Linked DNA regions of Homo sapiens. The protein of the gene in region 2 interacts with the protein of the main gene of each other region in a pairwise test. Each region holds a gene or a part of one and is shown on either strand. Other genes may lie near its edges. The genes, in order: SLC10A6, GOLT1B, SAR1A and SHISAL2A.

Region 1 (7,832 bases), on a different chromosome or scaffold from region 2:
CAGAAACATTGAAATAACTTGGCATTTGGGAGACCTCAAGGCTTTTAATGAGACCTAACAAATCAACGCTTAAGTGCAGCAAATGTCACTTTGGAGCTCAATGATTGCTCATAGAGATCTTGTCTTAACAAGTTACGAAGTCTAAGTTCTGATAGTGGATTCACTTTTGTGAAGTATATTTGTTTATAATTATAAGCTCATTTTCAGATGGCTTTTTATATTTTTCTGTGAAACTCCCACTTGTGCGCCAAACTATCCTGTCTATGTGCCTTATCGTCCCCAGAAATGTCAGGCTTTCAAAAAGTGTATCACAGGGGCAGCACATGCAAGTTTGGATTGAAAAAAAAGTTGGTAAGTTGGGGTGAACAATTTCCCGTCAGTTATTTCCTACCCAATGGGTGTTCACCCACCTGCAACAATAAGAAATCCATCTATCAGCTGGAAGAGTCCATAGGCCAGTGGGAAACTCAACATCTGGACCAAGTGCTCAGCAGTGAAAGATAACTGGAGCATGGTGATGCACATCTGAATATTCTGAGCTCCAGTTTCTAAGGAAATTGTCCTGCACCTACCAAAAAGAAAATGTTTCAAGAGTAACGCACTAGCAATAAGAACTATTCTAATATTTTCTCATATGCATCATAACAATTAGAAGCTATGACCTCAGGCCACTGAAAATGTGTACTCATTCCATAGTTATTTGCTGAGTGCCTATTCTGCAGGTGGTCTTCTGAGAGGCACGGTGGAGTGAGGCTTTGCAAACCCTGCCCTAGGCATCTGAGTAAAAAGACAAGATAAACACACAGGAGAGGTTCAGCAACAACACAAGACAAAGTATGGCCAAAGGCCACGCAGATGTAGAAATTTAGAAAATGGCAGAAGGGGTGAGAGAAGGCTTCACAGAGGAGTGGGATTTAAGGATGGAAAAAAATAGAAGAAGCTTTTGATGAGGGGGAAATATTATAAAAATTAAAGTTCCAGGGAGAGGTGTGAGTGTGGCCTGTTCAGCAGGCATTGCATATACTGTAAGCCAATCTGCAGAGAGGAGAGGACTGGAGGAGACAAGAATGGAAAGTTGAGTTAGAGATATGATGCAGGACATGGTGGCTCATGCCTGGAATCCCAGCACTGAGAGGCAGAAGCGGGAAGATTGCTTGAGCCAGGAATTCAAGACCACCCTGGGCAACAGAGTAAGACCCTGTCTCTACAAAAAGAAAAACGTATATATATTTTTGAAAGACATATGAAACAATATAAACTAACCAACACTTAAAAACAAATAAACAAGGCCAGGCACAGTGGCTCACGCCTGTAATCTCAGCACTTTGAGAGACCAAGGTGGGTGGATCACCTGAGGTCAGGAGTTCGAGACCAGCCTGGCCAACATGGTGAAACCCTGTCCCTACCAAAAATACAAAAATTAGCCTGGCGTGGTGGCACACGCTCCTGTAATCCCAGCTACTCGGGAGGCTGAGGCACGAGAATCACTTGAATCCAGGAGGCAGAGGTTGCACTCCAGCCTGGGCAACGAGGTCTCAATAAATAAATAAATAAATAAATAAATAAATAAATAAAAACACAAAAACCCTGAATAAAGACCAAATTCCTAAAATGATTATCTTTGGTGAAAGAGTTTGGTAATAATTTTTCTTTTTGCTTTCTACTTTTCTATACTTTATTGGTTTTCTGGTTGCATAAAATGAAGTAAACCTCATTTGAAAAGACAAAGGAGGGAATAGAGGGAAGACCTGGGCAGGATGTTGAGGGCTGAGTTAAGCAGTTTCACGTCTCCAGTTTATAAAGGGAGCCTGCAGTGTTTTATATGTGGAAGTGAGGAGATAAAAGAGGTGTTTCAGAAAACAAACAAGCACCTCTGTGCAAGCTGGACTGGAATGGGGAAGTAACAAGGGTGTGTAATGAGGGGGTGAAAATGCTGTCAATGGTACAGGGCAAGCTCTGTGTTCATACGTTATTTCTACTTATTCTATTGCTTGCTACACTTGTCTCAAACCACCCTCACTTCTTTGAGACTTTTGTCAAAAACTCGATATGATTAAGCTACAAAGCTGGAACTCACACCTGCACCATTCATGAGCCAAATCTCAGTCCTGGGCTTTGTCAGGCTATCAGGTATGAAAAAGATGGGATTGTGGACTACATCTTGCCATAGGAGTACTTTCTGTCCAGAGCCAATTGCATTTCAACCACTCAACAGACTGTGTTCCTAATTGTTAAATTTGGAAACAAACCCAGGTCCAAATCCTAACTCCACAATTTTCTAGCTCTATGAACTTGGTCAAGTCACTTAATTTCTCTGAAGGGTCTGCTCATCAGTAGAATGAGGGTAGTGATAGGATCTACTTCTCAAGCTTGTAGTAAGAAGTAAATGAGATAGATGGGGTAAAGCTTTACCGGGCGCTTAGTACAACCCTAAATGTTCCCCAAGTGGATTAGAAGTAGCATAAAGCCAATTAAAAATTCCCAACTTTCACCTTTGGAATTCAACTGCATAGTTTACTCTTCTTTAGTAATTTTTTTCTGCTTTTAAAAGTAGTACATACTTATTGAAAAGCTTCAAAAATATACCAAGGAAATACTAAAGAACTAAAATTATCCTTAATTTCGCTACTCAAAATTAAACATTGTTACCATATGGTGTATTTCTTCCAGTATATTTTGATGCATAGAATTCTTTTTGCTTTCTTCTACGAAGTGGGAATCAAATCATGTCGTTTTCTATTCTTTTTTAACTTAAATTTATCTCTTCCTATCAATTTGGCCTTTGCTTTAATTTACATAAAGAATTACCACAATATTTTCCATGAATTGCCATGAATGACCCTCTTTTATGCTTAGTTATCCTGTCGATTCCACTATGTAAGTCAAAACTCTTCATGTCTCCTGACACAGGCAGCAAAGCCTACCAGTGGCAGTGTGTTAAATTTACCTTCCTCAAAAAAGTTTATGGATAGTTTAACTATACCTTTGCCAAGACTGGTGGGTAAAAAGTGCCAGCAGAAAACCCGTGACATGGCCAATCAAAGGAAAGATGAAACTGATGGTCAGAAGGGTGATGTCTGAATTCCAAGATCCTTTCGCCAGGACCACACCAGCAACTGCGACCACCAGAAGGAGGACCCCACCAACAACGGCCCCAATCTGAAGCAAACAATAAAATAAGTGAATATAAACTCAGGGTTTTTTGCTCTATGATACAAAGTCCATCAAGGTTGTAAAATGCTTGGGATCTAGAAATTTTAGAACAAAGAAGGGACTTAGAGATGACTAAATACAATTTCATTTAGTAGAGGAGAAATCTGAGTTCCAAAGTGGTCAAGTAACTTGCCTATGCTAGAAATTGGTGGAGTTTGACACAAATCTAAGTCTCGCTTTAGCATATCTACCTTTCTCTTCAAGTAGAAGATTTTGCCAAAAGGATTGGGTAGTAGAGTTCTATTGTGGGTAGAACAAAAGTGTAAAATGAATGGAATCTGACAATGAGCTTCCAACACCCCTGCACACACCTCTATGACCCTCTGCTTGTGACCTCCAGTCTGACGTCTGCCCTGCCTGACCATCTGCCTCCCCTCCCACCGCCCCTTCAACCACCAGCAGCTGCCTGCTGCTTTGATCCCTGTCCTTCTCCCCTCCAAATAAAATTTACCCATTCTTCATTGGACAATCTGAGCTAATACTCATGATCACATGAGAAATACTGATGGAGACCTCTATCCTCTCCCAAATGGATACTGTCCTTACTTTTGTTGTTTAACAAGAACAGAAACAAAAGCCAACAATAACAAAATTTTGAATAGTTTGAGATTTAGATAAAATAGGAAGAAAGCATAACCTAGGGTATTTTGGGAAAATCAGGATCTTGGCAAGCTCCTGTTCATATCATGTAGACAGTAAACTGTGTACCTAGTTACAGTGTCAACCTTGATTTGAAATGATTCAGGATGTGAAGGAGGATGGTCGTAGGAAACTAGAGAAGACAACAAACAAACAGAATGACCCAATATACCATAAATGTGTTCTGGGGGTCATTTTTACTGTTCAAATACAGAGACAGACTAGACCCCTGCCTAAGAAAAAGATGCTAAGACAAGAAAGCCTCTTGGTCAGGCATGGTGGCTCATGTCTGTAATCCCAGAACTTTGGGAGGCAGAGGTGGGCGGATCACCTGAGGTCAGGAGTTCAAGACCATCCAGCCAACATGGCAAAATCCTGTCTCTACTAAAAAATACAAAAATTAGCCAGGCGTGGTGACACATGCCTGTAATCCCAGCTACTCAAGAGGCTGAGGCAGGAGAATTACTTGAACCCAGGAGGTGGAGGTTGCAGTGAGCCAAGATTGCGCCACTGCACTCCAGCCTGGGTGACAGAGCAAGACTCCGTTTAAAAAAAAAATGAAAGAAAGAAAGCCTCTGAATGTAACATCCCCTCTTCCTCTCTCTACCAAAGATTTCAAAGTTTAATATCCACCAAGAGCAAATGGGGAACACTTAAGTTTGTTCAGAAAATGTGTCAGATCTAAAATTAAAATGGAACTAAGGCCTCTGAATGTAACATCCCCTCTTCCTCTCTCTACCAAAGATTTCAAAGTTTAATATCCACCAAGAGCAAATGGGGAACACTTAAGTTTGTTCAGAAAATGTGTCAGATCTAAAATTAAAATGGAACTAAGAACAGGGAATGAAGATATACTAAAATAATGATTACATTAGCCTAGTTTTTTTTTTTTACTAAGGTAGTCTAGAATATTTATGCATATTATTAAATGTTTTGCCATAAATCCTATGAAATACCCAAAAGAAAAGAGTTTTAAATTTGCTCGTTACAGAAAATAAAACTGACATGTAAAAAAATGTATCTGGTTTCTCCATTGACACTGATGGACTGATAGAGGAGCTGGAAAACTCCAAAAGCATTATTTTTGTTATTGTTGTTAAATGCCCTTTTAAGAAAAATAATCAAAGATAGAGTACTTGAAAAGCAAGAAGTTTCCATGATCATTTCCCTCCTCTTGTTTTGTAAACAAAATCATAACTACCACACTGGAAATTTTCTCCTACTGAAATAACAATAATAAATGTGGAAAAGGGGCCAGGCACAGTGGCTCATGCCTGTGATCCCAACACTTTGGGAGGCCAAGGCCAGAGGATCCCTTGAGGCCAGGAGTTGCAAACCAGCCTGGGTAACATAGCAAGACCCTGTCTCTAAAAAAAAAATCTTTTTATTAGCAGGGCAGGATGGTGCATGCCTGTAGTGCTAGCTACCTCAGAGCTTGAGATGGGAGCATCATTTGAGCCTAGGAGATCAAGGTTGCAGTGAGCTATGATCGTGTCATTGCACTCCAGCCTGAGTGACAGAGCGAGACCCTATCTCAAAAACTTAATTAATTTTTAAAAATAAATGTGGAAAAGATGGGACTTTATTCCATGAGTACAGCTAAAAAAGGAGAGTGAAAATCAGGTGTGCACTATTGATGTTAAAGTCATCCATATGCAATACAAATGTACTATACTAAGCCATCCTCCAGCTCTCTGTGCCCAGCTGATTTTCTGCTTGGCAAGCCCTCTCCTCTCATTCTCCATCGCACTGAAGGAATGGTGGGAATGGTTTGGCCTTGTGCATAACTGGGAAAACAGTGTCCATTAGCACAGGCATATAGAGTGGCAATGTTCTGTGAGGTAGAGCCAAACGGCAAAAGCTTAAACCAAGCCAAACCATAAACCAGAAAACAAAATTAACTGAGATTTACTACATGAAACTCTAAATAACCCCAAATGTTTACTTCTTTATAAATGTAAAATATAACTGAAACATTTTTAAAATCTTCATGAAAGCCACACATATTACAACCTTCTATCTGCTAAAGTGATACATAATCAGAAAAAAAATGGAAAGCACCCTAGGAGACTCACACCATTGTTAAGAATGCCTCCTCTTTACGTTTTGTTGTTTTGTTTCATTTTTTAGAGATGGGGTCTCACTCTGTGATCCAGGCTCCAGTGCAATGGCATGATAATGGCTCACTGTAGCCTCAACCTCCTGGCCTCAAGCAATCCTCCCACCTCAGCCTGCCAAAGTTCTGGGATTACAGATGTGAGCCACTGCACCTGGCCTCTTGAATTATTTTTAAAAGCCATTTAACAAAGACATTTGCTTGTTTCTCCAGCAGACAAAGGGCAGGACTGCAAAGACAAGAGGAGGTAGAAAGTTCTAGTCACCATCATTCCATAGCTAGACTCCTCAGTGCTTCCTGGATGATTTCATTTAAACAGTCTTATTCATGTAGTCAGCAGCCCTTGCTCATGTGTACAAACAACAGCTTTGGCCGTGACCCCAGGAATGCTTCTGCAAGACAGCCCTTCCTCCTACTCTTCCAAGAAACCAGCCATATTACTAAACACTGGGGTTCCCTTTCATGCTCACTTGAACAGCTTCTGCCTCAAGAGCACCTGTGTGAAGCCTTGTTTATGGATGGGCCTGGGCTCTTCTGTCCACACACAGGCTTTAGCTTTCCTGACACTAAATCAATAGTTGCTTATTTTCCAGGGCGTCATAAGCCTCAGGGTACAGAACTATGGGAGTGGCAAAGCAAGGCTTACAGGGTGGAGGAAATATGATCCCTGGATCCAAAACCACAGGATGTGTAAGAAGAATTTCTGGGTGTGGGGCCGTACTCAACAAGCTCACTTGTCCCAGCCACTGCTCACTTCTGTCTTTCAGGCCCCTGAGTCTGAGGACGTGCCAACAGTGGCCATGAAGTCACTCACCTTGAGAATGATTTTGGATTGTTTTGGCCATCTGTAATTCACATAGACACCAAAGGCCACAGGAATGGTCAGGCACACAAGGGTAATTCCTAAAGAGAAGAAAAATCCATGAGAGGGTTTTCCCTCTCACCCTGACTGCACAGTACTTCCCAACAACTTCTATTTCAATTAGGTAACAGCTTTAAACTGACATTTTCCCATGCCACTTCCCAAGTCTGGATAAATGCCTACAATATTGGCTCCAAAGTTATATAAGCTGCTCATAACATTTTGCGTCTTGTGAGTGCCTTTCAGAACATATTATCAAAGCAGAATATATTAAATAACTTACTGATCAGAAAAAAAGTTGCACATAAAATCATGGTTTCTAAATTAAGGTTTCCCTCAAATTTTACAGATTCAGTGGGCTCCCGCTATTGTGAGGAAGTGGGTTCATTCATGGTTTTGAACTATGGGCCATGGGTTGTAAGCCTTCAAGGTGTTTACCTGAGACACCAGATTGACACTGAGAGTCTTAAGAATCATAGTGTTGGCCAGGCACGGTGGCTTACACCTGTAATCCTAGCACTTTGGGAGGCCAAGGTGGGTGGACTGCCTGAGCTCAGGAGTTTGAGACCAGCCTGGGCAACACGGTGAAACCCTGTCTCTCCTAAAATACCAAAAAAATTAGCCGGGTGTGGTGGCCTGCACCTGTAGTACCAGCTACTCGGAAGGCTGAGGCAGGAGAAGGCAGAAGTTGCAGTGAGCCGAGATTGCACGACTGCACTCCAGCCTGAGTGACAGAGCAAAACTCTGTCTCAAAAAAAAAAAACAAAAAAACATAGTGCCTATCACTTTTTCAAAAACTGACCACACTAGAAAAGGCAGATCATTTCACCACATTTCTCTTCTAAGCTTGCTAAACCCACAGAGATCTTTAGGAAAATGGCAGACTTTCATGAGAAATAATATTCAGAAGAGGAGATAATGAAAGAGATATGGGTGAGACTGTGACATGTAGATGAGTTTTCATAATCAGTAAGAATTATTTACATTCAACCTCCAAGAAAA
Region 2 (7,623 bases):
CACACTTGTCCTTGCACAACGAAGTCAAGAACAAAGTGCCTTCTGCAACATGGACTGCCACTCACGAAGACCCATCTGGCTACATCCAGAGCTAAGTGCTCAACCTGCAAACAGCTCATACCAACCTTGAGTTCCAATGGAGGCACCATTCTCTGTGGGGACAGACAGATGCTTGATGGCAAAGTGACCGCATTGGAACCGTCTATAATGAAAGAGGCAGCACTTTGTTCTCACTGATACAGATGCTTACTCCGGATATGAATTTACCATACCTGCCTGCAGTGCTCTATCATGTCCACCATCCAGGAATTCACGGAATTCCTACTGATTGTCATCGTATTCCCCACCAAATTACTTCTGACCAAAGAACTCATTTACAGCAAACAAAGCACAACAGAAGGCTAATGTTCAAGATATTAACTGGTCTAACTATGTTCACCAACAACCTGCAGCAGCTAGCCTGAGAAAATAATGGAGTGGCATTTTGCAGACTCAATTATGCTGCCAGCTGGGTATCAGCACTTTAAGGGCTGGACTAGTAGCCTCCAGGATATGGCATGCTATACATCAGTGAATAGTGCTGTTTCTCCCATTGCCACGATTCACGGGAATCAGCGGTGGAAATGGGAGTGGCTCTTCTATTACCCTTAGTGATCCGCTAGTGAAATTTTTGCTTCCCATCCTTGAAACATCGGACTCTTGCTGGCCTAGAGGTCTTGGTTACCAAGAAAGAAATGCTTGTACCAGGGGAAAAAGCAATAGTTCCATTAAACTGGAAGTTGACTGCCACTTGGCCACTTTGGGTTCCTCATGCCAACAAATGAACAGGCAAAGAAGGCGATTACTATACTTGCTGGGGTAAGTGATCCTGACTATTAAGGGGAAATCAGATAGCTACTACACTATAGGGATAAGGAAGAGTATGTCTGGAAAGCAGAAGATCCTCTAGTGCACCTCTCAGTATTCCCTTACCTTGTGATTAAAGTTAATTGAAAACTATAATAACCAAATATAGGAAACTACTAAGGCAAGTAGTCCCCACCAAGCAAAGACCCATTACCAACTGAGAACCAAGGAATACAGAATGGGTAGTTGAAGAAGGCAGTTATAAAGTACAAACTATGATCACATGACCAATTGAAAAACAAGAACTGTAATAGCTATAAGTCTTTCTTGCTTTTTAAAATTTGTATATAAACCAAGTTTGGGTTTTTCCTTTTATTTGGTCCCTCTCCGATACATTACAGTATTACCAAGGAGGACATGATTCAGCAAGAAGAGAAATGAGCATCACCCAAAGACGAATAAAGATAATTTGTACCTGCTCTTTTGGGGAAGGGGTCAGTGTATACTCAGCAGTAAGAGAAATAGGCAAAAGCATGATTCCGCTATTGCCTTTATTTGGACACAAATAAGGTAAAAATTAGACACAAAAGGACAAATGTTATATGATTCCATTTATATGAGGTACCTAAAATAGTCAAGAAACAGAAAGTAGAATAGTGGCTATCAGGGATTAGGAGAAGAGAAGTAATGGAAAGTTACGGATTAATGAGTATAGAATTTTAGTCTGGATAGATGAAAAAGCTCTGGAGATGGATAGTGGTGACGACTGCACAACAGTCTAAATGCATTTAATGCCAATGAATTATTCACTTAATAATGGTTAGCATGGCAAAGTTTGTAATGTGTATTTTACTTCAATAAAAAAGCTGAAAAAAATCATTTCTATAATCAGAATTTTTAAAACAAACTTTTTCAAATATCATACAAACAGAAATAGAACAGAAGGAAGAAGAAAATGTAATCATTGCTACTAACCTGAAACGGACGCCATTCTTTTTCTTTCCAAATTTGTTTCTAAAATAATCCAAATTTCTTTCTAAAAATAAAAGCACAACAGTGACAACAAGTTTTTAAAAATAGTACTATTAATGATGTTCACTCAACAGTAATCTGTCATTCCTAAGCACGGAAAATGTTAGAAAGTAAATTATATATTGCAGTGACCTTTCAAATAAGAACCACATGGTTCTTTTGACACTAATTTTTTATGGAAAACTCTATATTTCAGCTTAATAACCCACAACACTCAGAACGACTAACTCTCTAGATTTCAGAGAAGTGTCCAAAGTCACATAAACGTATACATGACAAATACAGTAGCAATGACACTCAGCAAACATCCACAAGATACAAAGTGATGTAACAAAAAACAGCAAACATTCAACAGGTCTAGCACCAATTGCTATGTGACTAAATTACTATGTTAGGCAAAGTTGCATATGCTGTTCCTCCAAGCCTCTTTCCCTACCTGTAAAACTGGGAGGATGGCAATCTTATAAATAAGTTGGATAGATTCAAATGTACCAGATTAAGCAAAATACATCAACATAAATAATAAAATTAATCATCTAACATTTTATTGAGCCCTTGCGTTAAAGAATTACAATATAAGCCCAATCTTAAAAGAGAAACTGGTATTCTACAGAAAAGCTAGATTTTCTAAGTTAGAGGTGGGGGGAGGGGAAAATGGTTTGTAATGATTTCTAAGTATCTATGAATGACTAAAACCTAAGCATGCATATGGACAAGTGGAAAATGGGGCTGGAGAGTAGAAACTTTAAATTCCCCATAATCCTAAAAACACCTCTTCTATCTCTCTAATATGGACATTTTCTAAAACTAAGATGCTCTCCAAAAGTCACTTCTGCAACACCTATCCTTAGACTGCTGACCTTACGCCCTTTCTACACAGAATTCTGAAGCCACCACTAGGCCGGAAAGATAGGCTGACTCTTTTTTGCCTTGCTAAAGAATGTGGAATAACCACACCATTAAAAGAAGGCTAAATAGGAGAGTAAACCAAGGATTTCTAATTCTTGATCTATACAAACATCTCTTCACGTAATGAAAATGTAACATTCCTTCCATAGACTGTAAGGTCCTTTAGCAGGGCTGGGGTTCAATCTCTTCACCTTTGTATCCGCACAGCCCAGGAAAATGCCTTGATGTAGTGAGGGCTCAGGTTTGCTAAGGTAGCAGGGGCTGTTTCTACCCTTATGAAAAGACACAGTCTATATCCAATTCTCCCCCACGATTTTAAATGACTCCTTTGATTATGCGGTTAAAAGACTGCTCCTTCCCAAAATGATGTGATTTAACAGCAAAAGATATCTCAACATAAAATGTATCCAGAAATTGAACTACAGCAGGTCTGTCACTCAGCAGTATAAGCTAGGCATCCACAGGAAGAATGTTACAGGGTGACAGCCAGTCATCAATGTTGGAGGAAACGCCACTGAGATACCATAGGCTAAATCCTCTCTCTCCCCGCCACCTGCATTTAGAGGCAATAGTAATTTAATATTAATAACGCCCGCCCTTCCGCTACTGTGAAGCAGGGGGTGGAAGAAGCATCCCCAGTAGTATTTACCAACAAATGGCAGCTGCTAATAAACAGGCTTTGGTGGCCAATCCTCCTGCATGGAAAAGAATGGGGAGATCAGAAGACCGGTCAGCAGGCGAACGTGCCCCTAAAGGCCCGAGTTCTCAGAGCAGGGCAGTGATTAACTTTCCGGTTTCTCCTCCGCCAATGTGTGGGCGAAAGGAAGTGATCCGCTACAGACCGGCCTCGCCCTGCAGCAGGAAAGGGAAGGATGAAACAAAAAGCGCACACCCTTGACCCTTCAAAGCTGTAACAGTAGTTATCCCAGAGCCTCTCCCCACCGAGAAGCCCGGTCTAACTCTCCGGTGTTTGACTGTCCGGTGTCCGACTGTCCTGTGTCCGACTCTCCGATCTCCGACTCTCGGATCTCCGACACCAAAGCACCCAGGCCTCGAGCAGATCTTTCCGCTACTCGGGAGTAAAATCTTCCCGCCAGCCAGCTGAGAGCATCCACCCTTCCGGGTCGGTCCGTTCAGCCAATCACAGATAACTCCCTTCTCTAATTGGTCAAGGGGTGTGGTCACCATGCGCGTCACCGAACAACATTACGAGTTATTGGTTGAGATTGGAAGCAGGTTTCGCCAATAGGAAGCGCTCTTAAAGCGGCAGTGAGGGTGGCTGCGTGTTTCCGGAAGACGTGGCGGCTCTCGCCTGGGCTGTTTCCCGGCTTCATTTCTCCCGACTCAGCTTCCCACCCTGGGCTTTCCGAGGTGCTGTCGCCGCTGTCCCCACCACTGCAGCCATGATCTCCTTAACGGACACGCAGAGTAAGCACCTGCTCCGGGGCCCCCGCCTCGAGCCGCGCACACCCATCGCCCGGCTGGGTCTCGCCCCTCCGCCGGGGTCAATGAATGAAGCTCTGGGTTGGGGGCGGTGGCCTGCGAGACAGAGCTAGGGCTGCTGGGACCCTAAGGGGCTGCCTTCGGGATGCCGGGGCTAGACTTGGACTGGCGGACCTGACCTGGGAGAAGAGTCTGTGGGGCAGGGTGGGACGCCCTATGTTGGGAGGGGAGCTTTAGCCCAGAGTCTGTCTCATTCCAGGGTCGCGCTGATCTCCTCATCCCCAGTGAGATGGGCGCTTTGTTCTAGGGGCTTGCCACAAGAGAAAGTTTGCGTGGTGCCCGCGGCCCACTCTCGGGATCGTTTATGCGCATGACACACTTCGGGTCCTCTACAAGTCCCTGGCTGGCTGGTTATTTGGGAGGCGGTATTTTAAATGTCACCTACAGTAGGCTCTTTTTGAAAATGTCCTTACGCTTAAATGTGGCATTTTGAATATTCGCTTTTTGCCAGTACTGTAAGCAACCTTTTAGAAGTCTCTTGAAACATTCTCACTTTTCTACCTGCTAAAGTTTCAAGCAGTAGAGAAAAGCCACTTTGTGTGCCATTAAAGGATATATTTCGTTAGTATTGTATATTGTGCTTTGTGGCTTGTTTTATTATTTTAGCATCGCTCTCTGCCTGCCACAGAGTTCTCCAGGCCTATTTCATCTCTAAAGCTAGCATTGATATCGGTTTCCTTTTCTTTCATTATAATATTTCCACTTTCCTACTGCTTTTTGTTAATATTAATAATTTTTGTATTTATGTCTGCCCAAGCTCTGTACCTCATATTTTGATGTTCATAAGAGTCTCTTTTTGTCTCACTTTGCTTTATCTGCCACGCCTTTCATTTCACTCCAGTTAACTCAGATTTTCAATATTTTAAGACTTAAACAGTGAATTGAAGTGAAAAATAGAAGTTTATTTAAAATGCCCTATTTTAAAGTGGAGTCTTCTTGTGGAGATTCAAGTCATGGCAGACCAACTTCACAGAGCTTCTAAGGCCTCCTACACACACTGCCACCCCCCAATCAGGCTGTCTTCCCTCCTGAGGCTGGACTGGGGCTGCCTCTTGGGGCCACCTGCCCCAAGGTTGCCGCCCACTTTGGTCCATTGGCCTGGCCTGTTCTGATCAAAGAAAATAAAAGTGTAGTCTTGAGGGGATAGGAATCTAGTGTAATAATAATTACTGGCAATTATATAAAGGTATTTTCTTTCAGTTAACCATGTGCTTTCATGTGAATCATTATGCATAATTCTTATAAGAGCCCTGTAAGGCTCACAGAAGCATGCCCCTTTCATAAGTTAAATGAGGCACAAAAGAAATTGAGTGCATGGTCAAAGAAAAAGTGACAGAAACAAAACTTGATCCCAGGTGTGCTGGCTCAGAAACCTTTTGCACTGTACCCCACTATCACCTAAGAAGACTTGATATAAACTTTATTTGAGATCTGAGAATAATCTGTGCATAGAAATTATATTTTTGAAGACTTAATATAGTGATGAGTGCCTGCTTTATAAAAACAAGAGAGTGGGTTTGGACTATGGGCATTCTCCCTGAGAAGCATTCTCCTCACTTCATTAAATTTTGTGAGGGCAATGAAATTTTACTCTTTGCTGTTCACTTGTCACATGTTTTAGGTGAAACAGTGGATTGAAACATAAAACGATTAGTGAACCAAATGCATTTTGGATTTCAAATTGTGTTTGTGTGTGAGTGTGTTTAACTGCAGGGATTGGCCATCATTCAAGTGATTTGTCAGGATTATTCTGGGATTTTGGTTTTTAGAGAGTGGCCAAGCACTGCTCAGAGTAGAATAAATGGAAATTCATGATTATTTTAAGGCATTCTAGGACTTTCCTCACCGCCCCAAAAAAGACAAGACTTATTCAGAGGGGCGGAGGAGGGGCATGCTGCCTCTAAATCTTCATTTCATCACATTGTCTAAAAGCCTAGTGTGATAATTGCATTCTCCAGTACAGTTAATGTTCAATTGAATTCTTGCTTGACTTCTGTTTTTCAAAGGGTATGGTAAGAGAGACAATGCTGCTTTTAAAAAATTGTGAATAAGATATCAAAATGCTAACAGTGTTTGCCATTAGATTATGCGTGTCTTTCCTTATACAATTTCCACAGTATGCTCCTTATGTTAGACAGATTCGTTTTATTAAATTGTTTTTATATTTTTTTTAACTTGTGGACAGTTTTTTAAACATGTGGGAGGAGTGAAGGAAGATAAGTTTGTTTTACTGGATATGATTCCGATGGGAAGAAGGCAGCTCTATGCAAGGCTTTTGATAGCCAGAGGGCTTATGAATGCATACGGATAGGGAAAAGGGGGATCCTGGAGGTGAGAAAAAGGCACAATGAGGCCAATTTGAGACTTTTGACCAGTGTGGATCAGGAGCTACTTGGCAATGTCATTGCCAGTACCAGTTGTGGCAAAGATGTTTTGGGCAATGTCTCCCGCTGGACTGTACTGGATAAAGTAGTGGAATATTTTGGTTCCCATGTTGTAGTTGTAGGACCATTGTCTGTGGAGTGAGAAGACTGGTTGAATGCTGACTTCACAGACTGTTGTACCTGCCTCCATACCACCAGCACCCACACACACATTTTTGCTGCTTCTATGATCAAGAACAAGTTACTGAATTACCTCTAGGTCCATGGTTGCACATATGAACCATAGGACCAGTGCTACCTTTTACCTCACAATTTTGTTAAAGAAATTATAAAATTTTTGTATAAACACTTCATAACACGGTAAACCATACTCAGAGATTGGCCTTTTTGACCGCAGTTAATTTTTAATAGTTCTACTTGGCTATGTTAGATAACAAGCTAATATTAAACTTGAATCCCCTAAAAGATGCGTCCCCCAGAAGTTCAGAATACTCCAGTGTCCTTGAGTTTCATGTAACCAAACACCTTTAACCTAAAAAATAAAAATTCTGTGGGAAGAGGTATGGCATTAATGGTTAAGCACATGAGCTTTGGATTCAAAAGACCTTGGTTCGAATGCTTATCTAGAAGTGTGGCTTTAGGCAACTTAAGTCAACTCTCTAAACTTCAATTTCCTCCATCTTTAAAAAGATGTAATTATACCTGCATTCCAGTAGTATTGGAAGTATTAAGTTATATATAAGGTATGTGAAGCACTTCATAAGGCCTAATTCGTGGTAAATTCTCAGTACATAGTAGGTGTCTTTCCATATACCTTCCTTTCTAAAAACATCTCAGAATTTTTATGTAATCATCAAGGTTATTTGTGAAATGATAGAAATTAGTCATCTTCAACTAACAAAGCTGCCGATGTTTAATCCTAACTACTAAATAGTTATTTAATAGAATT
Region 3 (7,010 bases), on a different chromosome or scaffold from region 2:
TAGAAGAAAATATACTGGCTTAGGGCAAGCCTAGTTAAAATGATGAAATAATTACTCTTGTTGAAGCAATACATATATCTTTTAACATATTTTCCAGTTACAAGGTAAATTACATTAATAAGTAAAAATGTAGTAAAGATTAAAATGGCAAGATGCTGTCCTGCTTTGTAAAAATTTTCAGTCAAGATTTGAGTTGAGTTTGGCTATATCAGGCAAATACTTAAAAGTTCATGAATAGTTATACATTATGGCTAACTTTATCCCAGCTCAATAGGGTAATATTGAAGGGGACTTCTGTGTATTATTTAATGCAACTTTTGACAAGTTTGAAATTACTTAAAAAAATAAATGAATAAAACAACTTCACTAAAGTAATAAGATCCTAATTCTAAAATGTAAGTAATTTAAAAGGTAAAAATGACACACTGCTTTTAAAAGGAGCTGGGAGGCACAAAAAAAATAAGTCAATAAACATGCTTTCCACTGAGTCATCACTTACCTTGCTCGTGCCCACCAAGATCAAAAGTTGTAAAGGTCATTCCAGCAATTGTTAGCTCTTCTGATGCTGAAAAATTGTTTAAAAAGAAGAAAAAAACTTGTCAACTCAACAACCCCCAACTACTAGTACTATAAGCCAATATCAATGCTTTCATCTTGTAAAGAAAAAGATACAAGAAGTTGAGTGTGGTGGTACCCGCCTGTAGTTCCAGCTACTCAGGAGGCTGAGGGCAGGAGGATAATCTGAGCCCAGGATTTTTGAGACCAGCCCAGGCAACGCCCCACTCCCAACAAAGAAAAGGAATACAAGGGTGAAATGTTCTTAAACTATTCTAAAAGCCAAAGGTTTCTTTTCTTCCAAGCTATTTTCCACTTCTTAGAAGTAGGTATAGGAGAGGTGTCCCTTTACAGGACCAGTGACAACAGATAATGACAAAGTTCCAGAGGTTTAGATCTGAAAGTACATAACCTGAGTGTGTCTTACAGGGAACTTTCTCGTATGAGTTGGCTTTTGGGACTTCAGTTAATAAAAGAACTCCACCAACTAGGGATTCATCCTCCACGCCTAACACTGACCTTTAAAGATCAAAAGGTCACCTGATATTTTCAAACCTACTCGGATGTAGTGTTGGAACATGTTGGCCCAATCTGTCATCTTTGAGCATGTGAAGAAGAGTGGTTTTGCCTGCATTATCCAAACCTAAGAATACAAGTTTTCCAGATTTCTTGTACAGTCCTAAAAGAGAAAAAAATTGTTAACACATTTGCTCTCTACAGACCAAAGCCTATTTGTAGTTAAATTACTGAGGGAAAGGCACAAACTTTGAAACCTGTATTTCAAGGAAATGGCTTTACCTAGGAACTGGAGCACACTGCTGAAGCCATTGTAGATCCACTCAAAGATGAAAGACATTATTAATGCTTACTACCTGTATAAAATATGAAAGTAGCAAACATTAGCTTTCTGAATGACAGTACAATTGTGGAGAGGTTAACTCTTGTTCCCTAGCCATGATGCACATTTATAGTCTCTTGTTTTCGGGAATAAGAAAGCAGGCCAGGCATGGTGGCTCACACCTGGAATCCCAGCATTTGGGAAAGCCAAGGCAGGCGGATCACTTGAGCCCAGGAGTTCACAACTGGCCTGGGCAAGAAAGCTGGACTCAATCTCTACAAATAACTAAAAAAATAGCTGGACATAATGACACACACCAAGAGTCCCAGCTACTCAGGAGGGTGAGACAGAAGAATTACTTGAACCCAGGGGTTTGAGGCTGCAGTGAGGCATGACGGTGCCACTGCACTCACTTGGGCAACAGAGGGAGACTCTGATAAAAAAGACAGGACAGGACAGGAGAAAGGAAAGGGAAGGGAAAGGGAAAGGGAAAGGGAAAAGGAAAGGGAAAGGGAAAGGGAAAGGGAAAGGAAAGGAAAGGAAAAGAAAAGAAAAGAGAGGGGAGGGGAGGCGGGGCAGGGGAGGAGGGGGAGGGGAGGAGGGGAAGGGGAGGAGGGGATGGAAGGGGAGGGGAGGAAGCAAAGTAAAGAGAAACTAATATTCTTTCTTGACACAGATTTTGCAATCTGGAGGAGAGTCTAGAATCCTTATATGTGCAAAAATAACTTGTTTCCTAATAGTTTTTGATCTATGATACTCAGAGAACTAGGAGTTAAAAATATAAAGGCATACCTCATTTGATGATACTTTGTGGATCCTGAGGTTTTCTGGTTTTTTTACAAATTGAAGGTTGGAAGCAGCCCTGAGTTGAGTAAGTGTATCAGTACCATCTTCTAACAGCATGTGCTCCCTTCATGTCTCTATGTTACATTTTGGTAATTCTCACACAATATTTCAAACTTTTTCATTATTCTTATATCTGTCATCATGATCTATGATCAGTGATCTTTGGTATTACTAGTATAATTGTTTTGTTGTGCCACAAACCACAACCATAGAAGACAGCAAACTTGACTTCCTCCACAGTCCTGCCCCCACCCCAAGCCTCCCTATTCTCCAAGTGAAAGTAACAGGTCTCTCCCTTGAAAGCAAAAGTTAGAAATGATTAAGCTTAGTGACGAAGACACATCAAAACCTGAGATAAGCCAGAAGCTAGGCCTCTTGCACTCAACAGTTACCCAAATTGCAAATGCAAAGGAAAAGTTCTTGAAGAAAATTAAAAGTGCTACTCCAGCAAACCCATGAACGTCAAGAAAATGAAACAGCCTTATTGCTGATAAAAAATAATAATAAAATAAAAACACGAGGTAAAAAAGCAAGTGCTGATGTAGAAGCTGCAGCAAGATAACTGATGAAGGTGGGTGGCTACACTAAACAACACATTTTCAATGTAGGCAAAACAGCCTTCTATTTGAAAAGCCATCTAGGACTTTCATAGCTAGAGGGGAGATGTCATTGCTTGGCTTCAAAGCTTCAAGGGGCAAGCTGACTCTCTTGTTATGGGCTAATGCAAGGTGACTTTACGTTGAGGCCAATATTCATTTACCATTCTGAAAATCCTAGGACCCATACTCATTTACCATTCTGAAAATCCTAGGACCCATACTCATTTACCATTTTGAAAATCCTAGGGCCCTGAAGAATGACACTAAATCAGTCCAAGTGGAGCAAGTGAGCGAGCAGAGTGGTTGTGTGGTTGCGTCTCGGAAACCAGTAGCACTTGCAGCATGGCTGACCAACTGACTGAGGAGCAGATTGTAGAATTCAAAGAAGTTTTTTCACTATTTGACAAAGATGGTGATGGAACTATAACAACAAAGAAACTAGGAACTGTAATGAGGTCTCAGGCAGAATCCCACAGAAGCAGAGTTACAGGACATGATTAATGAAGTAGATGCTGATGGTAATGGCACAATTGACTTCCCTGAATTTCTGACAATGATGGCAAGAAAAATGAAAGACACAGACAGTGAAGAAGAAATTAGAGAAACATTCTGTGTGTTTGATAAGGATGGCAATGGCTATATTAGTGGTGTAGAACTTCACCATGTGATGACAAACCTTGGAGTGAAGTTAACAGATGAAGAAGTTGATTAAATGATCAGGGAAGCAGATCCTGATGGTGATGGTCAAGTAAACTATGAGTTTGTACAAATGATGACAGCATAATGAAGACCTTGTACAGAATGTGTTAAATTTCTTGCACAAAACTGTTTATTTGCCTTTTGTTTGTAACTTATCTGTAAAAGGCTTCTCCCTACTGTCAAAAAAAAATATGCATGTATGGTAATCAGGACTTCATTCCTCCATGTGTTCTTCCCTTACTGTCATTGCCCTGAAACCTTATTTTAGAAAACTGATGAAGTAACATGTTGCCTGTGGCTTACTCCGGATATATCTAAGCCCTTCTGCACATCTAAACTTAGGTGGAGTTGGTCAAATAAGGGAACATCCGGGTTATGCCTTTTTTTAAAGTAGTTTTCTTTAGGAACTGTCAGCATGGTGTTGAAGTATGGAGTTGTAACTCTGTGTGGACTACGGACAGCCAACAATATGTACTTAAAAGTTGCACTACTGCAGAATGGGTGTATTATCCAGGTACTCCCAGGTACCTCACACACTGTTTTTTCTGTACTGCTGGTCCTGTACCAGAAACATTTTCTTTTACTGTTACTTGCTTTTTAAACTTTGTTTAGCCACTTAAAGAAAATGTGCTTATGGCACAATTTGCCTCAAATCCATTCCAAGTTGTGTATTTGTTTTCCAATTAAAAAAATTACAATTAAAAAAAGAATTATACTAAATCTACTCTGCCTACCACACATCTGTTTACAGCATGGTTTACTAAGTATTTTAAGCCCACTGTGAAGACCTATTGCTCAGAAAAAAAGATTTGAAGATATTACTGCTCATTGACAACGCACCTGGTCACCCATGGGCTTTGATGGAGGTGCAGAAAGAAGTTAATGTTGTTTTAATGTCTACTAACAACATCCATTCTGCTTCCCATGGATCAAGGAGTATTTTCGATTTGCCAGTCTTTCATTTAAGAAATATATTTCCTTTGGGAGGCCGAGGCGGGCGGATCACGAGGTCAGGAGATCGAGACCATCCCGGCTAAAACGGTGAAACCCCGTCTCTACTAAAAATACAAAAAATTAGCCGGGCGTAGTGGCGGGCGCCTGTGGTCCCAGCTACTTGGGAGGCTGAGGCAGGAGAATGGCGTGAACCCGGGAGGCGGAGCTTGCAGTGAGCCGAGATCCCGCCACTGCACTCCAGCCTGGGCGACAGAGCGAGACTCCGTCTCAAAAAAAAAAAAAAAAAAAAAGAAATATATTTCACAAAGCCATCAATGCCATAGACTGATTTCTCTGCTGGATCTGGGCAAAGTAAACTGAAAACCTCCTGGAAAGGAGTCACCATTCTAGGTACCAGTAAGAACAGTTATGATTCACGGGAAGAGGTCAAAATATCAATATTAACAGGAGTTAGGAAGACAGTGATTCCAACCCTCGTGGAAAACTTTGAGGGGTTCGAGACTTTGGAGGAAGAAGTAACCTTAGATGTGGTAGAAACAGCAAGAGAACTAGAATTAGAAGTAGAGCCTGAAGATGTGACAACTGCTGTAATTTCATGATCAAACTAATGGATAAAGAGATGCTTCTTATGGATAAGCAAAAAAAGTGGTTTTTTTGAGATGGAATCTAGTCCTGGTGAAGATGCTATGAATACTGTTGAAATGACACCAACAATTTAGAAAATTACAAAAACTTACTTGAGTTTACATAAACTTACTTGAGCAGCAGCAGGGTTTAAGAGGACTGGTTCCAATTTTGAAATAAATTCTGCTTTGGGTAAAATGCTATCAAACAGCATTGCATGCTACAGAGAAATCTTTCTTGAAAACAAGCATTAACTGATGCAACAAACTTCCTTGTTGTCTTATTTTAAGAAACTGCCACAGCCATCCCAACCTTTAGCAATCATCAACCTGATCAGTCAACAGCTATCAACGTGGAGTAACATGGAGGTAAGATCCCCAACCAGCAAAGAGGTTATGACTCGCAGAAGGCTCCGATGCTTGTTAGCATTTTTTAGCCATAAAGTATTTTTTAAATAAGGTACGTATTTTCTAAGACGTAATGCTACTGTACACTTAACAGACTACAGTATAGTGTAAACGTAACTTTTATGTGCACTAGGAAACCAAAATATTCGTGTTACTTGCTTTACTGTACTTGTTTTATTTCAGTAGTCTGGAACTAAACTCACAGTATATCCGAGGTATGCCTACACTTTCTTTTACTGTGTGACTTACTCCTCCAGGCAGCGGTTCATTCACATTCCCTAGACATACGACTGCTGTCATCCAGTGAAGAACAACTCTAGGAAATCAGTCTTATCAATAATGTGAATCAGAATGCCACTTAGATGCACTAAATAGAAAATAAGAATGAAAAGCACATTGATTTGAATGAAAAACATATTAATCTATCCTGTAAACAACTCTAAAAAACAAAAGTCACCCAAAATTCTACTGGCCAGCACCACTTGCCCTGCTCCATTTACCAATGTTATCTCAATATTTAATCATTTTTGCAGACACGGGTCTCAATTTATAAAAAGAAATGACATCACTATTTTAGAGAACCATTAAGGGATAAGAAGAGAATCTTTTCATACATGAATAATCACACCCAAACTCATTTTACAAATAGATTTTCTTAAAATAAGAATACTTATTCAGGCCGGGCCCCCGTGGCTCACACCTGTAATCCCAGCATTTTGCAAGGCTGAGGTGGGGGATTCCTCCCTGACCTCAGGAGTTCAAGACCAGCCTGGGTAACATAGAGAGACCTGCATCTCTACAAAAAAAAAAAAAAAAAATTAAAATTAGTCAGGCATGGTGGCACGTGCTTGTAGTTCCAGCTACTTGGGAGGCTGAGGCAAGAGGATTGCTTGAGCCCAGGAATTTGAGGCTGCCGTGAGCTATGATTGTGTCACTGCACCCCAGCCTGGGTGGCAGAGCAAGACCCTGTCTCAAGAAACAAAAAAGCAAAAAAAGAATACTTTTCAGGATATAGCAGTAAGTTCCCAAGCCAGTAAATAACTTAACTGGTACTGATATTAACACTACTTTTTCTATTGTTTCTCATAGCTATCAAAAGCTACTAAAAGGTTTACATATATTGGTAATAAGCAAAATGACCTCTGAATGAAATTAAGAGGGTAGGATCTAGACACACTGGTGGGTCTTAAGGTTTCTCAGCATTGTCTGGCCATGCTGAATTTTTGCTTTAGTATCTCAGATGCGGTGCAGAAAAATGGAAGGTCCACACTTTTACTCCTCTCCATCAGCAGGAGCATCTGAACACAGGGCTTTATACTAGATATGACCAACTGCATTCAAAATTTTCATGAACAGTAACCAGTAAAAGCATTACCCACAAAAAAATCCCCTTACATTCAAAGAATGCCAGATGAAGAATAAAATGAACAGCTGGGCGCGGCAGCGCTTGCTTGTAATCCCAGCTATGCAGAAGGCTGAGGCAGGAGA
Region 4 (7,832 bases), on a different chromosome or scaffold from region 2:
AAACTATACTGAAAGATCTTTTGCCAATAGAGACTTCCTTCCTCCCTTCCTTCCTTCCTTTCTCTTTCTCTCCCTTCCTTACTCCCTCCTTCCCTCCCTCCCTCCCTCTCTCTCTCTCTCTTTCTCTCTTTCTTTCTTTCTTTCTTTCTGAGACAGTCTCACTCTGTCGCCCAGGCTGGAGTGCAATGGCGCCATCTCGGCTCACTGCAACCTCCATCTCCCAGGTTCAAGCGATTCTCCTGCCTCAGCCTCCTGAGTAGCTGGGATTATAGGCGCCTGCCACCATGCCTGGCTAATTTTTGTATTTTTAGTAGAGACAGGGTTTCACCATGTTGGTCATGCTGGTCTTGAACTCCTGACCTCATGATCCGCCTGCCTCGGCCTCCCAAAGTGCTGGGATTACAGGCGTGAGCCACCGCGCCTAGCCCAGAGACTTGTATCTTTCATAATATCTTTCAGGATGTTGTCAAAATGTGTGCAAAAAAGGCTTGTGAAAAAGCAACACTTTATTTTTGGCCCCTTAGAGGCACTTGATAACCTATACTAATGAAGAAATGGGTAGTCTGGAACATCAGATTATTTAAAAAAACGCATACACACAATAAAAGCGCTTGTATTTCGTTTCTGATAAATTATGAGTTTGGAAGCAGCAGATTTTAAAAATTAATTCTATTTTGTTTGGGTTAATATTAAAATCAGTTTGCATTCCCCAAGGCTAAAATTAAAACATCATCTTAAACAATCCACAACATGGATTAATCTTTGTGTGACAAATGGAGTGTTGTCTACATTAAATTATTTTGACAAACAATGTAAACATGAAGAGTTTAGGATGGAAATGTTTAGATCACGAATCTCCAGAAAAATGTGCCGCTGCTTCTGCATATTCCAGGAATAGTCATGAGGCAAATGTTCCAAACATCATTTCTACATTTCTCCCCCCTTGAAAAGGTGCTAGTCTACCGAATACAAGGACATCACCTGGCAACTTCCTTACCTGCTGTCTGTAAGCTCAAGCCCAGGTCCAACTTTGTGTGGGGCTTAGAGCTGATGAACAGGTAGCAGAGCACACAGGCGGTAACAATGAAGGCGAGAAGAACCACTGCTGCTACGGACAGGCCTATGAGAGCGCCAATGCTGGGAAGAGAAGACCACATGGGAGCTGAGAGTCAGGAAGGGACTTGGGAGACAGATGTTATAAAAGTGTTGTAGCTAGGCTAGAATGAGCCTGCTGGGAAGAAAATGTACAGAATAAAAATATTTAAAAAAAATTTTAGGCCAGGCATAGTGGCCCATGCCTGTAATCCCAGCAATTTGGGAGGCCGAGGCGGGCAGATCACTTAGGGTCAGGATTCAAGACCGGCCTGGTCAACATGGTCTAAACACTAAAAATACAAAACTTAGCTGGATGTGGTAGTGGGCTCCTGTAATCTGTAATCTCACCTACTCGGGAGGCTGAGGCACGAGAATCACTTGAACTCGGGAGGCGGAGGTTGCAGTGAGCCGAGATCGTGCCACTGCACTCCAGCTTGGGTGACAGAGCAAGACTCCATCTCAAAAAAAAAAAAAAATTAGTGTTGTGTTGTAGGAATCAGCTTTGACTTTTGTTTTGTCCCTACTTGTCTTAAACAAGCTTTCTATGCTTCAGCATGGGAAAGAAAGTGCACCAACTATATGCCAAGGACTCACCACCAAGGACTCATACCTGACCCCGCTCAGCAGCACCATCTCCTTCCCTCCCTACTTTCCTCACCTGCTCCCACCCCAGGGACCTGGAGATGGTCTTAGGGGACCCCCCCATACTGCTGTTTCTTAAGAATCAAGACACATATAGTAGGCCTTAGTTAAAAGCCAGCTCTCCTTCCAGCCTTAGGTAATTTCTTTTCTTTTTGTTTTAAGACAAGTTCTTGCTCTGTCACCCAGATTGAACTGCAGTGTTGCCATCTAGGCTCACTGCATCCTCAACCTCCTGGGCTCAAGCAATCCTCCCACCTCAGCCTCCCAAATGGCTGGGACCACAGGCATGTGCCACCACGCCCAGCTATGTTTTTGTATTTTTTGAAGAGATGGGGTTTTGCCATGTTGCCCAGGCTGGTCTTAAATTCTTGAGCTCAAGCAATCTACTCATTTTGGCCTCCCAAAGTGCTGAGATTACAGGCATGAGCCACCATGCTGGCACCCCCTCCCACTCACCCCCGCCTCTTTTTTTAAAAAAAAGAAAATAGAGACCAGGTTTTGCTATGTTGTCCAGGCTGGTCTCAAACTTCTGGCCTCAAGCAATCCTCTCACCTCAACCTCCCAAAATGTTGGGATTACAAGCATGAGCCAACCGTGCCCAGGCAAGCCTCAGGTAACTTCTGACCCAACCTCCATGGTTCTGCTGACAACGTCAGTGTCAACTCCATGTCTCAAATACCTCCACTGCTGGTCCCTCACCCTCCAACCTCACTGCCTCTGGCCCCAAGTCAGGCCTTGGTCACCTGGTCTGAAGGAAGAAACAGCTTCCTTTTTTCCTCCCACAACACTCAACACAACACTTCTGACACCAGATGTATGGGGGGGTTTTCCCCACACGTCAAGCAATTCTCCAGCAGACACCATCAATTCTGGAACCATCTCTAGGCAAATAGTGTCAGCTCCCACAGGTTACGGGCTCAGTCCCACAAGACTCCCTCCTGCCCTCCCATACCAATTGCAAGTAGTAGGTTGTCACCTATACTTCTGACCCACCAGCTATAAATCAGTGTGCCCATTGCCCCTTCCTTGGGGTTGATTAATTTGCTAGGACAGCTCACTGAACTCAAAAAAACACTTATGTTTACCAGTTGATTAGGAAGGATATTACAAAGGATACAGTTGAATGGCCAGATGGAAGAGATACATAAGGCAAGGTATAAGGGAGGGGCGTGGAGCTTCCATCTGGTCTCCAATCACACAACCCTCCAGGGACCTCCACGTGTTCAGCAATCCAGAAGTTCTCTAAACCCTGTCTTCGGGATTTTATGGAGGCTTCATTACATAGGCATGATTGATTACCATTGGTGATCAACTCAACCTCTGGGCCCTCTCCCCTCCCTGGAGGTTGGAGTGAGGTGGGGCTGTAAGTTCCAGTGCTCTAATCACATGGTTGGTTTCCCCGGCAACCAGCCCCCATCCTAAGGCTCTCCAGGAGCCCACCATGAGTCATCTCATTAGAACAAAAGATGCTCCTATCACCCAGGAAATTATAAGGAATTTAGGAGCTCTGCGTCAGGAACTCGGGGTTCAGAGACCAAATTTTAGAACAAATGATGCTCCTAGCATCTCTATCTACAAGGGCTTTAGGAGCTTCAACTCAGGAACCAGGGGCAGAGACCAAATATGTTTTTTTTTGTTTGTTTTTTTTTTTGTTTTGAGACAGAGTCTTGATTCTCCTGCCTCAGCCTCCCTGGTAGGCGGGATTTCAGACCTCAAGTGATTCCCCCGCCCTTGACCTCCCAAAGTGCTGGGATTACAGGCGTGAGCTACCGTGTCCGGCCAAGACCATGTTTAATCAGCCTTATCCTCCCATTGTCTAGGCCCTGGCATGTGGTAGGCAGTTGGTAAATATCCTTTGGTACCTACTATGTGTCAGGTGTTATGGAACACTCTCCCAATGAGAAGGTATAGGTGGCATCAGGCTTTGTCCTTGCCTACCCTTTCTTCTCTAGCTCTCCTGCCCATTTTCTTCCCTGACTCTGGCCCCAGACACCTGCCCTTGCCACTTCTGCAGGATTTCGCTCCCTGTTAGTTAATGGCTAATTTCACTCAACCAAAACACCTGAGAGCTTTGAAGAGTCTGCCTTCCCATGGCTAAATAAATTATTGGACATCTCTGCAATGGAACAGTATAGCATATATAGAGACCTTATTAATGATATAGATGTTTTCAGGCAGGGCGATGTGGCTCATACCTGTAATCTCAGCACTTTGGGATGACAAGGTGGGCCGATCACTTGAGTCCAGGAATTCAAGACCAGCCTGGGCAACATGGTGAAACCCCATTTCTACAAAAAATACAAAAATTAGCCTGTCATGGTGACCACATGCCTGTAGTCTCAGCTACTCAGGAGGCTGAGGCGAGAGGGTTGCTGGAGCCCGGGAGGTGGAGGCTGCAGTGAGACATGATGGTGCCACTGCACTCCAGCCTAGGTGACAGAGCAAGACCCTGTCTCAAAAAAAAATGTTTTCAGATCTTTTAGATTTTAATATGTTTTGTTTTGTTTTTTGAGATGGAGTCTCACTCTGTCGCCCCGGCTGGAGTGCAGTGGTGCAATCTTGGCTCACTGCAAGCTCCGCCTCCCAGGTTCATGCCATTCTCCTGCCTCAGCCTCCCGAGTAGCTGGGACTACAAGCACCCGCCACCACGCCCGGCTAATTTTTTGTAATTTTAATAGAGACAGGGTTTCACCGTGTTAGCCAGGATGGTCTCGATCTCCTGACCTCGTGATCCGCCCGCCTCGGCCTCCTAAAGTGCTGGGATTACAGGCGTAAGCTACCACGCCCAGCCTAGATTTTAATATCTAAGATAATGGATAAATCTTTATGAACTTATTGATAATATTAATTGAAAAGAGCAGGACACACTACTAATTACATGGCATAACCCCAATTTAACTAAATAAGTATACATATATGCATAACTATACACATGTACACATGCAAGGTTGATGGAGATACACCAACTAACAGGCTGTCTCTGGGTATAGTTCAGGATGTGGATGTCCTGTCTGGGGCCCCTTGGATCTTATCATTGTGGAATATTCTGATACTCTAGCCAAAGTTTCCTTCTTTTTTTTTTTCTTTTCTGAGACAGGATCTCACTCTACCACCCAGGCTGGAGTACAGTGGCACCATCATGGCTCACTGCAACCTCAACCTTCCGGGCTCAAGTGATCCTCCTGCCTCAGCCTGTTGAGTAGCTGGGACTACAGGCATGTGCCACCACACCGAGCTAATTTTAATATTTCTTTTTACAGACTGGGTTTCACCATGTTGCCCAAGGTTGTCTCCAACTCTTAGGCTCAAGCAATCTGCCCGCCTTGGCTATCCTGGCCAAAGTTTCTATTGCAAACAGCTGTTACCTCTTTGTCTGAGGGGTTTCTTGGGCCCAGAACAGGCTCTGTGGACACACTGGCAAGTCAATAGTGCAGGATAATCAATACCTTCCTTACCCCACCAGCCCATGACCGATGACTGACAGAAATTGTTAGCTAAATATCCAGCTTCCTGGCCGTCAGGTGGGATAACCCTGAGGAGTACATTCTACACTGGCTGGCAGAGTTTAAGCTCCAGTTACCTCTGGTGTAATTTGCTTGGTAATACACCCATTGTTGGCTTCTTTCTCTCCCTGTCTCACTTTCTTATCCTCTACCAGTGATTTTTGGGATCACTTTCCACATAAACTACTTGCCATCAAATCCTCATCTCAGAGTCTCCTGGTGAATCCAAGCTTAGACACTGGATTACTCATGACTTCTTTCTCTTTTCATTTCTCTTGTCCTTTTCACATTTTTTACATTGAGTATGTAGGGCTTTTTAGTTCTTTAGTTACTTTAATTAAACATTATTTTCTCATTTGAGATATGCTTACTGTTCGTAGGGCTGTTATCTAGGAGAATTGTGCTTTGCTTGGGACCCGTGTGTGGGACAACTCTGGGTTCCTGGATAGAAAGGGGCCTCTAAGAGAGGCCCTTTGAGGAGTGAGGGGGAGAGTTTTGTTTGTCCCTGTCTACCATTCTTTCTCCAGCTTTCTTGCCCATCCTCTTCCCTGACTCTGGGGTGATACATTCCAGATCGGAGGTCAGTCAGGGGGCAGGCACTGTCTCTGCTGGTCTGTCCTGGTGACAGAGGAACTAAACTCCAAGGACAGAGTTGGGAACAACAGGGCAGGCTCCAAAGAAGGAAAATCTGTGCTTGGCATGAGATGAACTTCAAATGATCCGAGTTGTTCCATGGTGAATGTACTGCCTCAAGCAGGGATGAGTCCCTGTCATGGGAGAAGCTTGTGCAGGACACACGAATGAGTTATATCTTTCAGTGAAGTTAGAGATTCCTACCCTGGGTAGGAAATTGAATTAGAGAGCCTCGAGTCTTCGAGGATTTTACTGTTCTGACTCTGAAAGATAAAAACCCACTGTGACTCCTAAGAAAGAATTGGAGGGACAATCTAACAACCAAGGGCTTTGGAGTCAGGTAGTTCTAAGTTCAAATCCTGGTTCTGCCACATTTAAGCTGAAAAATCACTTTACCACTCTGACCTTCATTTTCTTCCTTTATAAAGGTTTCTATCTCACCAGGTGGTGGGAAGGATGAAATGAGGTGCTGTAGACACGGTCTGACCACAAACTCTGCCTTCCGGCAAGGCTGCTGTCTTCTGGCTCACACCCTCGTAAAAAAACAGAACTAGTGATGGAGGAGGGTGTTTGGCAAGTGGACCAGACGGTGTGACAGCACCAACTGCTTCTCCACAGGGTGTCTTCACTTCCTGAGGCACAATTTTAAAGATAGCAATTCTCCTTGAGCACTGTCTCTCCCAGGAAACAGTGCTTACCTGGAGATTTTGAAGTTTTTAAGGACTGACTTTCATGAAAAGGGCCAAACGGAATTTACAGCAAAACAAGGTCTCCACCCTGCAATATCCGGGCTCTGTTAGGAGCATGCCGGAAGAGTTATTTCAAGGTTCAGAGCACGTTGATGCCCTAGACATCCTGAGGACTTTCAGTTCCTCTCCTGCACTTTGCAATTGTCTGTGGTATTTATGAATCACATTATGTCTGAGTCCAGGAAGAGTCACCCTAGAGCCTTTAGCCACCTTGGGGTCACAGAATGGGAACACACTGACATGGGATGTTACCCCAGAGATCAGCCCATCCAACCCCCGAAGAAAGCATTGTCTGAGCCACTAAAGCATGCCACGTCAGAGTTTCCAGGGCAACGGAAGGGACCACAAGACACAAGAGCTGTGTAGGGAAGGGGTTAGTGGAAGAGGGAAAGGGTCCTGGCTGGGTGCTGAGAGAATTACTCACCTCTGTGTCCCCAGGGGCCAGCACAGTGCCCAGAAGACACTAGAGGGTCAGTGAGTATTTTTCAGATGATCTGAGTGGATCAGGTTGTTAAGAGAGATCCAGACAGTAGTAGACAGGACAAGCCAGGGCTTGAGATGAGACAGGCCTGAGTTTTCAACCCAGCTCTGCCACTGCCTCTCACTGGGACACTCCCAGATAGTAACTTAACCTTTCTCAAGTTTTCTCATGTGTAAAATGAGAAGTGCCAGGGTTGTGAATGTGTGAGAGCATCTAACCCTTGGATAGTCTTAGGTAATGTTCTTTAAGTCTCAGTCTGCTATGATATTGCTAGGAGATCTCGGACAATTCACTTCCACACTGAATTTCACTTCCCACACCTATGAACCAAGGAAAGGGAACTCTCTTATTGAGCACCTAACATATGCACTGGTCACTTTCATGTGCATTATTTCTCTTAGTTCTTACAATTCCATCACACAAATATCTCTATCACCATTTTAAAGTTGAGAGAAAATACTAGGAAGTTAAATAACTTTTCCAATCCACATAGATAATAAGTGACAGATTCTGACCAGCCCCAAAGCTCCACACTGTCTCTGTACTATCACACAAATATCTCTATCACCATTTTAAAGTTGAGAGAAAATACTAGGAAGTTAAATAACTTTTCCAATCCACATAGATAATAAGTGACAGATTCTGACCAGCCCCAAAGCTCCACACTGTCTCTGTACTATCACACAAATATCTCTATCACCATTTTAAAGTTGAGAGAAAATACTAGGA

Evidence for each region.
Region 1: the proteins of GOLT1B (region 2) and SLC10A6 interact in binary tests that used the Homo sapiens proteins (3 or more experiments, as listed by UniProt).
Region 3: the proteins of GOLT1B (region 2) and SAR1A interact in binary tests that used the Homo sapiens proteins (3 or more experiments, as listed by UniProt).
Region 4: the proteins of GOLT1B (region 2) and SHISAL2A interact in binary tests that used the Homo sapiens proteins (3 or more experiments, as listed by UniProt).

Annotation. Positions count from the first base shown.
Region 1 is NC_000004.12:86,825,010-86,832,841, forward strand, and holds part of SLC10A6 (sodium-dependent organic anion transporter), read right to left. Parts: intron 6,872-7,832; coding exon 6,783-6,871; intron 3,160-6,782; coding exon 2,984-3,159; intron 569-2,983; coding exon 411-568; intron 1-410. UniProt on the Homo sapiens protein: Transports sulfoconjugated steroid hormones from the extracellular compartment into the cytosol in a sodium-dependent manner without hydrolysis.
Region 2 is NC_000012.12:21,497,734-21,505,356, forward strand, and holds the start of GOLT1B (vesicle transport protein GOT1B), read left to right. Parts: upstream 1-4,055; 5' UTR 4,056-4,190; coding exon 4,191-4,215; intron 4,216-7,623. Other genes in the region: RECQL (ATP-dependent DNA helicase Q1), read right to left, coding at 1,822-1,837. UniProt on the Homo sapiens protein: May be involved in fusion of ER-derived transport vesicles with the Golgi complex.
Region 3 is NC_000010.11:70,160,505-70,167,514, forward strand, and holds part of SAR1A (small COPII coat GTPase SAR1A), read right to left. Parts: intron 2,256-7,010; exon of another isoform or gene 2,186-2,255; intron 1,428-2,185; 5' UTR 1,412-1,427; coding exon 1,354-1,411; intron 1,235-1,353; coding exon 1,115-1,234; intron 566-1,114; coding exon 500-565; intron 1-499. UniProt on the Homo sapiens protein: Small GTPase that cycles between an active GTP-bound and an inactive GDP-bound state and mainly functions in vesicle-mediated endoplasmic reticulum (ER) to Golgi transport.
Region 4 is NC_000001.11:52,636,168-52,643,999, reverse strand, and holds part of SHISAL2A (protein shisa-like-2A), read right to left. Parts: intron 4,026-7,832; exon of another isoform or gene 3,933-4,025; intron 1,138-3,932; coding exon 998-1,137; intron 1-997.